Regions from separate parts of the Homo sapiens genome. Here region 2 is linked to region 1. The links come from fine-mapping of genetic effects on gene expression. Tissue or cell type: whole blood. Region 1 holds a variant in brackets; the other region holds the start of a gene. All regions are shown on one strand. Distances are between the middles of the regions.

Evidence for each region. PIP is the estimated chance that this variant, and not a neighbour inherited with it, causes the effect.
Region 2: SEPTIN6 starts here. The variant in region 1 is fine-mapped to the expression of SEPTIN6 in whole blood (TOPMed, PIP above 0.99). The same link has a PIP of 0.9 or more in blood mononuclear cells.

What each region holds. Positions count from the first base shown.
Region 1 is chrX:119,633,985-119,642,088 of GRCh38, reverse strand. It overlaps SEPTIN6 (septin 6), which reads left to right. Exons shown (of 11, transcript NM_145799.4): 6 at 1,301-1,397; 7 at 4,894-5,062. Among named protein-coding and RNA genes, the nearest start is that of MIR766, 8.8 kb to the left of the region's middle. RefSeq lists enhancers at 2,718-2,767, 3,278-3,397. The variant T/C (reference allele first, on the strand shown) is at 4,813.
Region 2 is chrX:119,689,127-119,697,230 of GRCh38, reverse strand. It overlaps SEPTIN6 (septin 6), which reads left to right and starts at 4,063. Exons shown (of 11, transcript NM_145799.4): 1 at 4,063-4,155. The coding sequence starts at 4,126. RefSeq lists enhancers at 442-501, 4,050-4,179, 5,000-5,049 and silencers at 3,820-3,869, 4,380-4,509.

The sequences.
Region 1 (8,104 bases):
TTCCTGTATGATCGTTGTTGAGATGGCTTTCTCCCTTGGCACACTGTGCACTCTCCGGGGCCAGGGTCTGTGCTTTTTTGCTATTACGTCATTCTTAATGCCTAGCACATATCATAGGAGCTCAGTAAATATTTGTAGAATGGATGAGTGGGCAAATGGGTCAGAATATCTGAGATCATGGCCTGTTTCTGCAGGCAGGCTAAGAAACTTTCCCCATAGGCTCTTTACCTGTTGGTGTAAAGCCCTTTTGGGCAAAGCCCCACCTGGGCTCACCTGGTCAGTAAACATTGATTCCGTGGTTCCATCTGGCTGTGGTGACTTAGCACTTACAAGCTGGCTAGCTCCTTGTGGATTACGGCTCTGTGAGTGTTTCCTAGGCCCCATACTGCCAAGTCGGGGCAGCTCTCTCTTCTCTCATCCATAAAGCCAGGCCAAGCTCCTCATTTTCCCTGTGAGCACCAAGCTCATAAACCTATTTGTCCTTTGCCTTTCTTTCCTCTTTCCCTAGCCCTACCACTGCCATTCAGGAAGTATTTATTAAGCACCTACTATGTACAGGGTACCAGACCATATACTTGAGCCCTTGATCACATACTATCTTATATGACTTGAGTTATGTAATTTGGGCTTCCTCAACAAGACTGTAAGCTCCTAGAGGGCGAGGGAGCGTGTCTTCTGCTGCTTCTGTCTGCCTTATAGCACCTACAGAAGAACCCAGCATGGTCATGTGAGTAAATCCTTGGTGACTTGCCTTCTAGGCTCACAAGTTCAATGTGAGCTCTTTCTCCGGGGAAGGATGAGAACAAGGAGAGTACAGCTCAGTTGGCTGTGTGGTCTCAGTATGGACCTAGTCTTGGGGCTCTTGCATGCCAGGGAGGGAGAAGGGCCAGTGATCCCAGACCCTTTGGTACTCCTTTATCCTCTCTATCCACACAGAACCCCCCTCATTCCACTTCCCCTTCTTCCAAAGGCTCTTCCCCTCAGCAGTAACTATGAATAGCGAATAGTTTGGTAATCTGTGTGTCTGCTTATTATTCTGCTTATTTTCTCTCTTTGTTCCCTATGCATTCAGCCATGTCATTGTTACCCTCTATTGTGAATTTCTGAACAGCAGAGGCTTGGACTAGGCCTCTTATCCTCACATGGTTTGGGAACTTAATAAATGCTTGTTGGTGATGATGACAGTGAGGGACATTGCAGGGTGAGGGCCTGGGGCCCCAGAGACGAACAGCAGTTGGGTTGTGTAACACTCAGTGCCTTTCTTCTGCAGTTCTCAGCTTTCGTTTGCCTTCGGTTTCAGGCCCACCTGCCGTTTGCTGTCATTGGCAGCACAGAAGAACTGAAGATAGGCAACAAGATGATGAGGGCGCGGCAGTATCCTTGGGGCACTGTGCAGGGTGAGTGAGTCTCCGGGAAGGGCTACACACAGGAAGCCCCTTTTGTCTGTCTCTTTGTTTGTCCCCAGCCACTATATGACAAGTTTCTAAATTGTCCCAAGTCTCTGCTCATTCGGCATGGGTCCCAAATAGCCATAGGGGTCACTAGCAAGCTAACTCTGGCTCCATACTGGGATGCTCTGATGGGAGCAAGCTCCCTCTAATTTCTAATGGGAAAGGTATTCCTAAAACACAAGGACTTGCAAGGTAGGAAGGAGTGTGCGAAAAAGCATGTGTTCTTGCCCAAGTGCACCTGAAGAATGTTCACAGTAGTGTTGTTTGTAATGACAAATAATTACAAACAATTCAGATATTCTTTAAAATAGACTGGATAGGCCGGGCACAGTGGCTCACGCCTGTAATCCCAGCACTTTGGGAGGCCGAGGCGGGCGGATCACGAGGTCAGGAGATTGAGACCATCCTGGCCAACATGGTGAAACCCCATCTCTACTAAAAATACAAAAAAAAAAAAAAAAAAAAAAAAGACTGGATAGTGGGAGGGTGGGAGGGGGATAAGGGATTTAAAAAAACTACGTGTTGGGGCTGGGCGCGGTGGCTCACTCCTGTAATTCTAGCACTCTGGGAGGCCGAAGAAGGCGGATCACCTGAGGTCAGGAGCTCGAGACCAGCCTGGCCAACATGGTGAAACCCCGTTTCTACTAAAAATACAAAAAAAAAAAAATTAGTCAGGTATGGTGGCATGTGCCTGTAGTCCCAGCTACTCAGGAGGCTGAGGCAGGAGAATCGCTTGAACCCGGGAGGTAGAGATTGCAGTGAGCTGAGATTTTGCCACTGCATTCCAGCCTGGGCGACAGAGTGAGATTCAAAAAAAAAGAAAGAAAGAAACATACCATTGGATTCCCTTTGTATGAATTCCAAAAGGAGGCAAAACTAAACAAGATATATATTCTTAGGAATGCATACATAAGAGGTAAAACTATAAAGAAAAACAAAGGAATGATAATCCCCAAAGTCAGGAGAAGGATTAAGTCTCTGCCAGGGGAGTTGAGGGATAGAGGGGGATGAGATTGGGAAAGGGCACTCAGGGGCTTCCAAGGTACTGGTAATGTTTAACCTGAGTTGTGGAGACATTGGTGTTAATTTTTCAAAAATTCTTTAAATTGTACATACACATTTCATGCTCTTTGTATGTATGATTATTTCACAATTGAAAAGCAATTAGACATATTGTATTACACTCAGGAAAGTTCCTTCTGTGATCTGCCTGACATATGTTAACTTACCCTCAGGGCTAGTCAGTTCAGTGCACAAGACAAGGCCAAGGATGGCGCTGTGGGTAGAAGAGGTCTCTGGTCCTCAGAGTCTACAGCTAGAAACTGGGCCGTGGCTGATAGGGGCATCGTGTGAAAGAGTGGCTGGTTCTCTGTAAACTCATCCCTACCACTGGGGAAACACCTGAAAGTGGATGGCGAGTTGTCCACATCACATACGAAGGCTGGCATGTTTTAGGACACCCCACACACCCACTGGCAATAGCTGGATTTTCCATAGGTAGGACAAGACTGGTTATCAGAGCTGTGCTAAGTTCTGGTCTTCTCTGCTGTTCGGAGCTGGGGATGCTCCACTAGGAACGTTTGCAAATGGTTTCTGGACCCACAGTGTCCCACCCTGGGAATGGACTTGTGGTCTGAGAAACAGGAACCTGAAGTGAGACGAGGAGAAGCCAGTAGACATGGTTCCAATGACTTATTTCATCTGATGTGGACTACTCTGAACCTAAACAGAAAAGGGGGTTTTGAAAGTTTTTCTTGTAAGTCTAAGTTGACTGTTCCGCTTGAATGAGGAAGAAGTTGTATATTGCTCAGGCAGCCTGCAGGGCCCTCGGAGGCACTCCTTCTGACTCACCATTAGAGATCACTGTCCAGAGATGGAGGAGGAGATGGCATATAGCATAGTCCTGAGAAGTTGTCTTACTGATGTCATCTTTAATATTAGCCTGTGTTCTATGACAGCAGGGGGCTTTATTCCTAATTCAGTGGGTCTTAAGCAGAGGGATTATGTGAGCTGATTCGGGCTTTGGAAAGATTAATGACCACAAGGTAGTCTGCTTCAACTATGGCTGACCCACTTATCCCAGACCCTTCTCTGCCCTCACTACCCTCTTCCAGACCCTGCAAGACAGAATCTGGGGTGATTGCCTGTTCACTTCAGACACCATTTTTCCTACTTGTTCAGGGCAAATACCACCATCCGACACAGTGAAGCCATACCTGTAGCCACCTTGACAAAGTGCTCCTCGTGACCTGGTCCAGCCAGAAATCGATTTTGCTATGACTTGGTCCACATCTGTCATTCTTGACCACTGCCCCAAATTGCAGACCTTTGCTTGCACTCTTTTGAGGAGGGGACTTGTTCACACAGGCCAGAAAGTGGGGTCCCCTTGCTCCTAGTCACCACTGCTACTGTCAGGCCATTATCTACCTTCTAAAGAAACCACCTCCTTGGAAGCTTCTACCATCCAGGTGGGCCATGCCTGCGGTCCACACCCCTCCTTGTCACTGTCATCTATCAATATCCTAGTTCTTTCCCCTTATTCTTTGGAGACTTTGTCACCTCCCCTACATTGCCTGGGTTTGAACCCTAATTCTGCAACTTACTAGCTACATAACCTTGCCTAGCCTCATTGACACTTTGCAAACACCATTCCCTTCTCTGGCTGATAAATTGCTATTCTTCCTTCCAGAGTCATCTTAGAGATTTTCTCTTCGGTGAAGTCTTCACTTTCCCAGGAGTTCTTAGGTTCCCCTCTTCTGAGCTTTATTGCAACTTGGCTATCCCTCTATTTTTGTAGTTGTGCACTGAATTGTATTTGTCTATTTGTATCTATTCTTCCTCTAAACTATAAGCTCCTGAGAGCAAGATTCCATCACTTCGTTTCTGAATTCCCAGTGCCTCACACAATACTGGGAACAGAGATTCCACAAATATTGATTGGATGGATGGATGGATGGATGGATGGATGGATGGATGGATGGATAGATAGATGGATGGATGAGTGGATGGATGGATGGATAGATGGATGGATGGATGGATGGATGAGTGGATGGATGGATGGATGGATGGATGGATGGATAGATGGATGGATGGATGAGTGGATGGATGGATGGATGGATGGACAGATGCATATATGCTGTTGTCCTACAAGTGGTGCAGACCAAACATTCTTTTGAGGGTTCTGACTGCTGAATTTAGATTGTGGTGCTACTGACTGTCTTAATAAGTATTTTTATGATATCACAGTTTTTCATTACTGGCATTTTTGTAACCTTTCATTTACATTTTCAGTAGAAAAGAGAGGAGGTAAATTTGCAGGATCTAAATACACAGATTGCAAGGCAACGTCACTGTTAGACAT[T/C]TTGCCTCTCGTTTCATCCATTTCTGCTTCTGCTGGCCTTCCTTTCAACATACTTTCAATACCCCAAATCCTGCTATGCAGTTGAAAACGAGGCCCACTGCGACTTTGTGAAGCTGCGGGAGATGCTGATTCGGGTCAACATGGAGGATCTGCGGGAGCAGACCCACACCCGGCACTATGAGCTGTATCGCCGCTGTAAGCTGGAGGAGATGGGCTTCAAGGACACCGACCCTGACAGCAAACCCTTCAGGTACCGCTCCTGCCAGCCCAGCCCAGCCCAGCCCAGCTCAGCTCAGCCCACTCAGGTGGTGTGGAAGCCTTCCCCTGGAGAATTCACAGGGGAGGCGAGACACGGGTGCTAAGACCTCAAGGAGCAGGGGCGACTCACTTGCCAGTTCTGCTTGCCTGTTCACCCTTTGCCTCTGCACACCTGCCAGGAGAGCTGTGGGGAGCAGGCTTGGGAAGTACCGCCGCCTTGCTTTTAAGGGCAAGGGAAGGGAGGATGCCCAGAGGACCAGCAAGGCTGATCACCACACACACATGCACGCATCCATGACAGCTCCAAGCAGCTGCGCTGGGGGGAATCCCCAAGCTGGGGCCCTGTTCCACGAGGTGGCAGTTGGTAACTGTCCTCTGCCCCTCTTTCTTCATCAGGCTCCTGGCGCTCAGACAGGTTTCTAGTCTGTTCTTTACCCATTTCCCCATTCTCAAACCCAGATAGGACCAGGTAGCATGCCCTTGCCATGCATCGATGAACTGCAGGCTCTCCAATTGCTGTCCTTAGTGTCTGCATTCAAGTGCAAGTTCTGTTTTGACCGCAGGATGTTGATCATCACTGCCATATTTCTTAAATCAGAATGCTTTTAGAGAAGGGGAATGTTTTTGAAAGCAGGTTATTATGCAGAGAGGAGTAATGCGCCAAGTAGAAGTGTCTGATCTATATGCGTGATGTGTGAAATAAGCCCCACAGTTGAAATTACCACGTGGTGCCCTTTATGGTGGTCAGGCATTAATAAGCAAGTGAGGGAGATGTCTACCAGTTAAAAAGGCTTTCAAAGAGCCTCTGAGATCTTACTCTACCTGTGCACAGCCTAAAGCTGGCCTGGAGTCAGAGCCTAACCAGTCCCTTGGGGATATTTGCTTCAGGAGGGACAGGCTCATGCCCTATATACTGACAGGTGGGGCTGGGGGAAGCCATGCTTGTCTTTTTCTGGTGGGAGCTCCCTGGCTGTCTTCCCCACCTGCAGCTTTCATCTGCATTTGTAGAGGAGTAGGTGTGCCTCCACCTGGTCATTTTGTCTCCTTCCCTCCTCCTTCACTCCATCCTGAATACCTCTGTTTCCTGTGTCTTCGCCTTCTTCACTCCTTCTCTGCCAGCTCCTTCCCATGCTGCATGTAAGCATTCTTGTGCTGAAGAAACTCTCCCTTAACCCTGCTCTTTCTTACCAGCCTCTGTCCTGTCAAGAAGTCCTTGACAGGATGAGGAGAAAGAGTTGTTCTATGTTTACTGGTTCCTCTTCCCCATCTCTCATTCATTCCTCAATCCACTGCAGTCTGGCTTCTGTCCCCAGCATAACCACTCAAATGCCTCTCTCCAAGGCCAGGAATCGCAGACTTGTGGCCAAGTTCAATGTGGCCTTTGGTTTCCATCTTATTTGATATCAACGCAGCACTTTATGCCATTCCCCACTGCCTCCTTGAAATGCTCTCTGCCTTTGGCTTTTCTAGCACTGGCCTGGCTGATTCTATTCCTATCTCTCCTACTATTTCTTCTCAGCCTCCTTTGCAGGCTCGTTTTCTTCACCTTACTCCTTTAAATGTTGATATACCCCCCGGGATTCTTTCCTAGAGCCTCTGCTCCTTTCACTTTCTGTTCTCTTTGCAGCTGGTTCTTTCTACTCTCACAGCCCTAATTACCACCTAGAAGTAGATGGTTCCCAAGCTAGTCTTACTTCTGAGGTCTAAACCCATTAATCCAACTGCATCCTGGATGTCCACTCAGACATCCCATAGAGGACCTCCCCGAAAATCAAGCTCTGTACAAATTCATCTTCTGCCCTCTTAAGCATGTGTCTCCAACATTCCCTGTTGCCATTCATGATACCACCATCCACCTGGTTGCCCAAGGATAATCAGAATTACCTTTGGCTCCTCCCAAGTCCTGGGAGTTCTGCTTCCCTTACTGCTCCCTCCATTCCCTCCCAGCCCTTAACATTAAGATCCTATCACTTCTTCTTTTCTTTTCTTTCTTTTTTTTTTTTTTTTTTTGAGACAGAGTCTTGCTCTATCGCCCAGGCTGGAGTACAATGGCACAATCTCGGCTCACTGCAATCTTGGCTTCCCGGGTTCAAGCGATTCTCCTGCCTCAGCCTCCCCAGTAGCTGGGATTACAGGCGCCCACCACCTCACCCAGCTAATTTTTGTATTTTTATTAGAGATGGGGTTTCACCATATTGGCCAGGCTGGTCTTGAACTCCTGACCTCAAGTGATCTACCCACCTTGGCCTCCCAAAGTGCTGAGATTACAGGCATGAGCCACCACACCTGGCCAAGATCCTGTCACTTCTTACTTGGATTGATGGACAGTCTATCCTTCCCACAGCACAGCCGGAATGGTCCTTCTCATTTTCAAATTGGATCTAGTACTACTTCCTGCTTTAAAACCATGCAGTGTGTACATATCCAATTTTTAAATATGGCATTCAAAGCCTGTTCTCTTCCTCCAGGCTCAGGAACTTTGTCTGCCTCTACTCCACCACTGCCATGGTGCTCTCTGGCCATGTTGAACCATACCTGGCTCCCCAAGAATGTCATTCTCTCTTCACACCTGCTTTCTTACATGCTGCCCTCTTTGGATCACAGTTCCACCTCTTCTTCACCAGGCTATTGCTTTTTTTTTTTTTTTTTTGAGATGGAGTCTCACTCTGTCACACAGGCTGGAGTGCAGTGGCGCAATCTCGGCTCACTTCAACCTTCGCCTAGCAGGTTCAAGTGATTCTCCTGCCTCAGCCTCCCGAGTAGCTGGGATTACTGGCGCCCACTACGACGCCTGGCTAATTTTTTGTATTTTTTAGTAGAGATGGGGTTTCACCATGTTGGCCAGGCTGGTCTCGAACTCCTGACCTCAGGTGATCCACCCGTCTTGGCCTCCCAGAGTGCTGGAATTACAGGCGTGAGCCACTGCACCCAGCCTATCTCCTATTTCTTTAAAAATAAGCTTAGGCCAGGGGCATCTCCCACTAGACCATGAGTTCCTTGATGGCAGGTATGATGGCTGTTGGCTCTAGAGGCT
Region 2 (8,104 bases), 55 kb before region 1:
TTTTTAGTAGAGACGGGGGTTTCACCATGTTGGCTAGGCTGGTCTCGAACTCCTGACCTCAAGTGATCCACCTGCCTCAGCCTCCCAAAATGTTGGGATTACAGGCATGAGCCGCCACGCCCGGCCCCTCCTCCAACTTTCTGATCTTATTTTTCAGATGGTTCTCAGGGCTTCTCCACTTGAGACTGACTCTACCATCTTTCTCGTTCTCCTATCACAAAGCCACAGTTTCAGGACAAAGCCCTTTCCTGACCTCTTAGCTCCATTTCAGTGCCCTCTTCTCCCTCCCTGCCCCTGAGTTGCTTGCTGCTCCTCTATCCAGTATTAGCACCCCCAACTCCAGCAGTGACCTGTGGAAAGCTGGGCTCCAATTAGGGCCCACTCTTATCTAGCAGGGGTAGCCATTTCTGCTCCCAGGCAGTAGAGTCTGGCTCCACAAACATTGGCATGCTAATGACAGCCACCTGCTTGCCCCTGGGAAGTCTCTGTTTGTTGCAGCTTCTTTAAGGACATGGAAATACTGAAGCCACCTCATTTACATGCTTCTGTTCATTCCTTTACTCAACAAACATTGATTGAACACCTGCCAGACACCATGCTGGGCCCAAGGGACCCCACAAGGAAACATCAAACATGAGCACATACATGTTCATGGAAGCGCCCGGGAGTCCCAAATGACTCTTCATAAAGGGGAATCTTTTGGCTTCACTCATCAACGAGGACAGACATTCAAGGAAGAAAACTCACGAACTGACCACTCATGAGCCCTCTTGCCTCCTCAGCCCTTCCATCTCCCCTGTTCTTGGGAAGGTGACCCGGGACAAAGACTGAAAGGCATGATTTCAGGCCGGGTGCGGTGGCTCACACCTATAATCCCAGCACTTTGCAAGGCCGAGGCAGGTGGATCACGAGGTCAGGAGTTCAAGACCAGCCTAGCCAAGATGGTGAAACCCTGTCTCTACTGCAAATACAAAAAAAAAAAAAAAAAAAAAATAGCTGGGCGTGGTGGTGGGCGCTTATAGTCCCAGCTGCAGCAGAGAATTGCTTGAACCCAAGAGGCAGAGGTTGCAGTGAGTAGAGATCACGCCACTGCACTGCAGCCTGGATGACAGAGCACTCCGTCTCAAAAAAAAAATAAAAAAGGAAAAAAAAAGAAAGGCATGATCCCAGAGAGTTTCCAAACCTCTTTATTGAAATGAATGTTCTGATTCACACGTCTCAGTCGTCGGCCCACTGCACTGAGTGAGATAAGGTATGTAAAGCTAGTGAGCTAACACCTCTCTCCATATTGACACACATACACTCACCATGCATTGAAATACACTGACACACCAACACATGCCAACACACACATTGACACACAGATATACAGACACACAGCTAGCACACACTGACAATACACACGAACACACCGACACATCTACTCACACATCAAGACCAACACACACACTGACCCACACCCCACCGAAGGAGGCTGGAGGCCCAGGCCCCAGGAGGGACTTGTAGCCGCAGGTGGGCAGGTATTGGAGGAACCAAAGGGTCCCAGGAGACTTGAATTAAGCACTTAGTTCAGGTCTTCGAGGTTCAGCGTTTTGGAGGAGGAGGACGCAGTGAGGTTCTGGTAGTCTCTAGGGACAGGAGGGCCGAATGGGGCATATGGATGAGACACCAAGGATTCCGTGCTCAGGTGCCCCCAGCGCTGGGCCGGTAAGTACGGAGCTTCAGTCCGCGAGGAGTGCTAAGGCGGGCGGGGCAGTGCGTGGGGGATTCTCCCGGGAGACCCGCAGCCCTCCAGTCCCCTCCCGTTCCGGCAGCAGCTTTCTGCTCTGGCTTCCAAATTCTCCCCTTTTGTCCCACCACCACCCAAACCCCAAGTCCAGATCGGGGCTAGTGACCTCGGGGCCTTTCAGTCCACCACGCCCTAGCCTTTGCCAGGGAAGAGCCCTGTCCCAGACACCCAGCCTGGAAGCCGCCAGTCACCTCTGACTCCCCGCCCCCATGCGGTTGGGGCCCAAGCCTCACCGTGGTTCCTCAGATATAGCACTGGTCCCCCGTGTCACTGCCAACCCAGTCCAGGGCTCAGGCCCTGCCCCAAAGCTCCAGAGAGTCTGAAAGACTCCAGCTGCCCCTCTTCCTTGCCACCGCCATCCGCCCTATGGCCTGCGCCTTCTGTCTCGCGGAGCTCCTCTGCGCTGATCCCTGATTTTGCCAGGCTCTTCTCTTTAGGCCGCTCCTGGGTCTCCAGCACAATGAAGGCGCACAGTGGCGCTCCCTGAATACTTGGCTCTTCATGACTGTCCTTACTGCTATTCCCTCACTGTGTCTCTTCTTTCTTCTCCCCGCCCCCCTCGCACGCATCCAAGTTCTCTGCCCTCAGCTTAATAGAGTGCCTCCTGACTGCGAGGCCCTGCACTCGGCCCTGGGATGCGTTTGCTGAGTCCTTGTTCTCCAGGCGCACAGGGTACATACATAAAGGGCTTCCCGAGAGAGTGTGAGAAGCTCCATCCAGCAGGTGGAACCAAGTGCCAGGCATGCTCTTCTTTGGCTACTCCATTTTCTTGTCTTCCCTGACTTCTCCGAGACCAGGGCCTCTGGATCGAGTCCCTTCTTCCTCTCTCTCCCTGGTTCCTTCTTTTCTTTTTCCCTCTCTCCTGCCTCCTCCTCAGCTGCTCCAGCCTTGGGCCTTTACGGGGTCATCTTCCATGCTCCATTGGGGCCCCCTCTTGGGCCCGGGTTTCCTCCATAGCCTTGTCATCCCCTCCCCCATCTGGGGTCCCTCTGGCGGGCCCAGGTCTCTCTCCCACACCAGGGAACCTGCCCTTTTGAGGAGTGGAATGTACTGTCCCTCCCGCTGGGGCCTCGGGCATGCCAAATCTGCCAGCGTGCTCCAGTGACAGGGAGCTAGCAAGAGGCCAGTCCCAAGAGAGAGGGGAGGGCGCCAAGGCCGGAGAAGTGGAGAGGTGCCCACGAGAGAGGACCCGCGGAGGTGGGCCACGGGGATAAGGAGGGCGGGCGGGCGCACCCCTGCCTTCGGAAGTTCTCTCCTCTGCGCCCTATTGGCCGCCTTGTCCCGGGCTGAATGAGGGTCAAGGAGAAATCAGGGGGCGGGACAGAGTGACTGGAGGCCGCTCCCCGTCACCCGCCCCTCCATTTCGCTCCATAGAGCTGAGAACCTTCATCTCCAGCCCTTCCTCTGGTACTAGAAGGGGTGGGTGGTCTTGCTGAGCGTCTAGGGCTGGGTCGGAGAGAGGAGGCGTGGGTTCCGTCTGTACTAGGTACCCAAAGGTGGTGAGCTTGGCTCCACGAAATTACAGCCCACAGCACCCAAGGCTTGGAAACCCCAGGGCAGAAGCAGCGTCTCAAGACCTCTAGCCTCGGACCCCACATGCCACAGCTCAGCTCAGTTGCCGGGCTGCAGTGCGGCTCCCCCCACGGGCCCCCTTTCTAAGCTCTACTGTGGAGCGGCAGGTGCCGCAGGCCTCCCCGGTACCTCGGCCGCAGCTGCGCTCCCGGGCCATGGAGGGAGGGAGACACGACAGTGGGGCATCGAGACTCCAGCGGCCAAGGCGCACCCATCTAAGCACCTTGGGATCTCGGTGGAAAGGAAGGGGGGTAACGGGGGCCGGGAGGAGAACTGCAGAGCTCGGCCGCTGAGCAGAGTATGGGAGGGGGGAGGGGCGGGGGCTCCCTTCCAGCCTTCGGGGTCTGGGGACTTAGGGATGTAAAGGAGAGCAGGGGGGTGTGACAATTCAGCAGAGGTCGGGACGTACCACGGAGCCAAGTGGCGGGGGGGGCAGAGGACGTGGTCACCGAGGGGAGCCCCCGCCCCCCTTCGTAGAAGCCTATGGCTGGGGTTGCAGGAAGAACTGGAACTGGTCTGGCCATAGGGGGAAGCGGCGCGTTAAATCCGCCCCCTCTCCATACCCTACTTTCAAGGGGTGGGCGGTAGAGGGGAGGTTGGGGTTGGAGCAGCGGCGAGGGGGCCCCTCCCTTGCACCTCCCCCCACCGGACTTGGTCGCGCCCGAAGTGTAACACTTTCTCTTTGTCGGAGGAGCTCCTCTGTTTCCTGTGCAGTAGCTCCCGTTGCGGCGGCACCCGTGGCAGCCCTGGCGGACGCAGGAGCGATGGCAGCGACCGATATAGCTCGCCAGGTGGTAAGTGCAGAGCTTGGGTGCCAGGGCCGGGGCCGAGGGCCTGGTGAGGGTCAAGGAGACCTGGCCGCCGCCGCCACATCGCGAGGAGGGCAGTGGGCAGCATCCAGGAGCCAAGGGCACGGTGGGACTTCTGCTCCCGGGGTCAGCAGCTCAGTCCCTCAGCCTGTCCCGGAAAACGGTGGTGGCGCGCGGGGGGCGGGGGGCGGCAGGGGGGCAGGCAAAACCTGCGGGCCGGCGGCTGAACTTGCATTGCCCAAGAGCCGCAGTGAGCGCCACCGCCTCCCTCGCTGCAGCTGCGGCCCCACGGCTGGGGCGTTGCCGAATGAATGGCCGTAGGAGCCGCCGAGCCCTCCGGGTCCCTGGCACCCTGGCCTTGCCGCGCCCCTGCGCACGGCTGCCCGTTGTGACCCGGGACCGCACAGGCAAAGAGGCGCGGGGCTGGGGTTAGCCTGGGGCAGAAGGCGGTGAGTGGCGAGGGGGGCGGGGAGGTGACTGGCTGGGATAGGGTTTCTCTATATGCATTACATATGTGACTGCGTCTGTGTGTGTATCGGTGTGCGCGTATGTGTGCACGCGCGCGCGCTCGTGTCTTCCCGGGCGGGCGGCGGCGGCGCCGGGGTTCTGTCTGTGACCCAAAGAAGTCCGCGTGTTTCTCTGAGTGTGCTCACCTCTGTGGTGTGTGTCCGAACGCCTCTCTGTCTGCTTGTGCTGTGTGCCTCTGGGTCTCATTTGTGCGTCAGTGTGGGGTGCAGTTGGCTGGCCTGTAGGTGGCTGGCTGCGTATTTTGGCATGTTTTGGAGCGGGCCTCTGAGGATCTGTCTCGGGTGCATGTTCAGTGTAACTGGGCTTGTGTGCCAAAACCTGTGGAGCTGGCTTCTTTCTATGGAGACTCAGGAAAATAAGTGTGAGACTCGCAAAAGCGGTGCCGTCTCTTTTTTTGTTGGCGACCGACTCTGGGAAAAAAAAAATCTTCATTTAAAGAACTGAAGTTTTCCAGCCTGGGATGTGCAGAGAAACCATGTTGAAGTGACCTGAGGCTCCATGTTTGTTTTTTAAACCAGAAGTTTGGTTGCAAAGGGCGATGAATTCCATTTGGGGGGGACACCCTAGCTATTCTATTCATCCATGGGTATCTGGGACTTTAATAAGCCCACCAGCACCCCGAGGTGAGGAAGGAGTGGGAGACAGAGGTAGGTCAAATCCCATGACACCACATACTACTTGACGAAAATCTCTGAACCACATAAAAATGTTTTTCAACCTTGTAGCTTACTTATTTAGGAAAATAGTTCATGCAATGCAACTACAGTACAAAAAAAAAGCCTCTAGGTATTTGGTGTAATTGAAATTGATTTTACAAAATCTGAAGCCAGAATCTGATAATATTTTCTCTACAGAATATGTATTAATGTCTCTTTTGTCCCTGTTTGGAAGGGCAGGATCATTTCTTCGGAACCTCCTCCACCCCCTGCACACCCTAGCACAGAGCACTTTATGCAGTCATGTTGTGGAAGGACCAGGAGTAGACAGGGGACATTCTCTGTGATGATGCAATTTGAGAGAATTTTCTTCCCCCAAGATTGGCACTCTCGTTGTTTATTGCTTTAGTGTTTTGAGGGCTCCCTCTTTTCTGCTGTGGCTTTTCTGCTCCTGGTTACCTGCATTTCAGAGATGGTATAGCTGAAGTAGAGGAATTAATCTCTGGGATTACACTAGCTCCATCCAAAAATGACGCTAATGATTTTTCATGTCAGCTAATGAATTTGCATCGACCTGTCCTCCATACTCTCACCAGTTTCTCTTGCCTGGATTAGGATTGCAGGGCAGATGTTGCAATGGGGAACATTCCAGAAGGTTGTGTGTGTTTCACCTCAGGCACAACTCAGGCAACCTAGAGATGCCCTTTGTTCTGCAGATGGGGGTGAGGGGGTGCTTTAGGGCCACTTGGTTTGCTTTGCATGGCTCCAGTTTGCTCTGGCTGGCCTTGCCATACTGTATGATGAAGAACATAATTGTACGCCAGATTCTGAAGCTGAAAGAGCAGCCTAAGCACTCGAGACCTTGTTATCGTGATAAATGGGTTTCTGGGAAAACTGACGTCACTCTCCATGCCCCCCTCCCCCAGCCAGTGAAGCTCCTGTTTATGTGTCATTTGTCTCTCTGTTCTCCTTTGTGTCTGCAATAAGTTGTAATTCACCAGGGAAGACGGAGTTAACTCAGGAGACCTTGGACATCTGGTTGCTGCTTGTTTCCTCCAAGGAACATGTATTCAGGGTTTGGGAACAGAAGACTAGAGAATAAACCTAAGTGTGGCTAGCTTAGGAATTCTTTTTTTTTTTTTTTTTTTTTTTTGAGACGGAGTCTTGCTCTGTTGCCCAGGCTGGAGTGCAAGTGGCATGATCTCGGCTCACTGCAACCTCAGCCTCCCAGGTTCAAGCGATTCTCCTGCCTCAGCCTCCCGAGTAGCTGGGATTACAGGCACCCGCCACCACACCTGGCTAGTTTTGATATTTTTAGTAGAGGGGGGTTTTCACCATGTTGGCCAGGCTGGTCTCGAACTCCTGACCTTGTGATCCACCCGCCTCAGCCTCCCAAAGTGTTGGGATTACAGGCATGAGCCACTGCTCCCGGCCAGGAATTCTTTTTAATGAGCTCTGAGACGTGGTACCATGCGAGTAAGTGCCCTAGTGTGTGTGTGTGTGTGTGTGTGTGTGTGTGTGTGTGTGTATGTGTATGTATGTGGGGGGTGTGTTCTTTCTAGAATCAGTTGAGAGTCACTGTGGGTAAACATCCTTAGTGACTAAAACAAGCCTTCAAGTTGTTGGGTAGGGCTTACATTGCACGCAGCCAACTTGGAAGTTCAATTCTGGTGCACATAATACAAGTCCGTCCCATTTGAATGAACACCACAAACGGTTTGGTGTGACAACACCATTTCTCCACTGTGTCCATATTTACTTGATTGACTGATATGTGGCCAGCACTATGGTTAGCCCTTGTCAACTGGACAAAAAAAGGTAGCAGGCTTTAAAAAACGTTCGTGATCGGACTGGGCTTGGTGGCTCATGCCTGTAATCCCAGCACTTTGGGAGGCTGAGGTGGGCAGATCATGAGGTCAGGAGTTCGAGACCAGCCTGGCCAACATGGTGAAACCCCGTATCTACTAAAAATACAAAAATTAGCCAGGCGTGGTGGTGCGTGCCTGTAATCACAGCTACTCAGGAGGCTGAGGCAGAAGAATCGCTTGAACCCTGGAGGCAGAGGTTGCAGTGAGCCAAGATTGCACCACTGCACTCCAGCCTGGGCAACAGAGCGAGACTCCATCTCAAAAAAGAAAAAAAAGAGGCCGAGGTGGGTGGATCACAAAGTCAGGAGATCGAGACCAGCCTGGCTAACATGGTTAAATCTCATCTCTACTAAAAATACAAAAAATTAGCCAGGCGTGGTGGCGGGCACCTGTAGTCCCAGCTACTGTGGAGGCTGAGGGTGTGAACCTGGGAGGCGGCACTTGCAGTGAGCCGAGATCGTGCCACTACACTCCAGCCTGGGCGACAGAGTGGGAATCCGTCTCAAAAAACAAAACAAAAAAAAGTTCGTGGCTTTTAAGCTTATAGTCTAGTTGGAATGACAAATTGTGGACACTGTGAAATAATTAAAGAACTATAGAAGATCCTTGTGATGCCCCACCTCACCCCCTGACTATGAGGTGGCTTGGGCTGCTATTAATATATATTTCGAGAGGTTCCATGACTTGTCCAAGGTAACCAAGGCACAGGGCAAGCCCCAAAAGCTGCATGTGCTGGCTCTTTTAATGAGCTGTTCCTTTCAATGTTGCATTCTGGGATCCAGACCGTAAATGCCGGCCCATACCAAGAGCATCTGGATGATTCTGGCTTGAACTAGTCCCACAATGTGAACAATGAAGCTTTCTCTAGTGGCAATCTAGGTA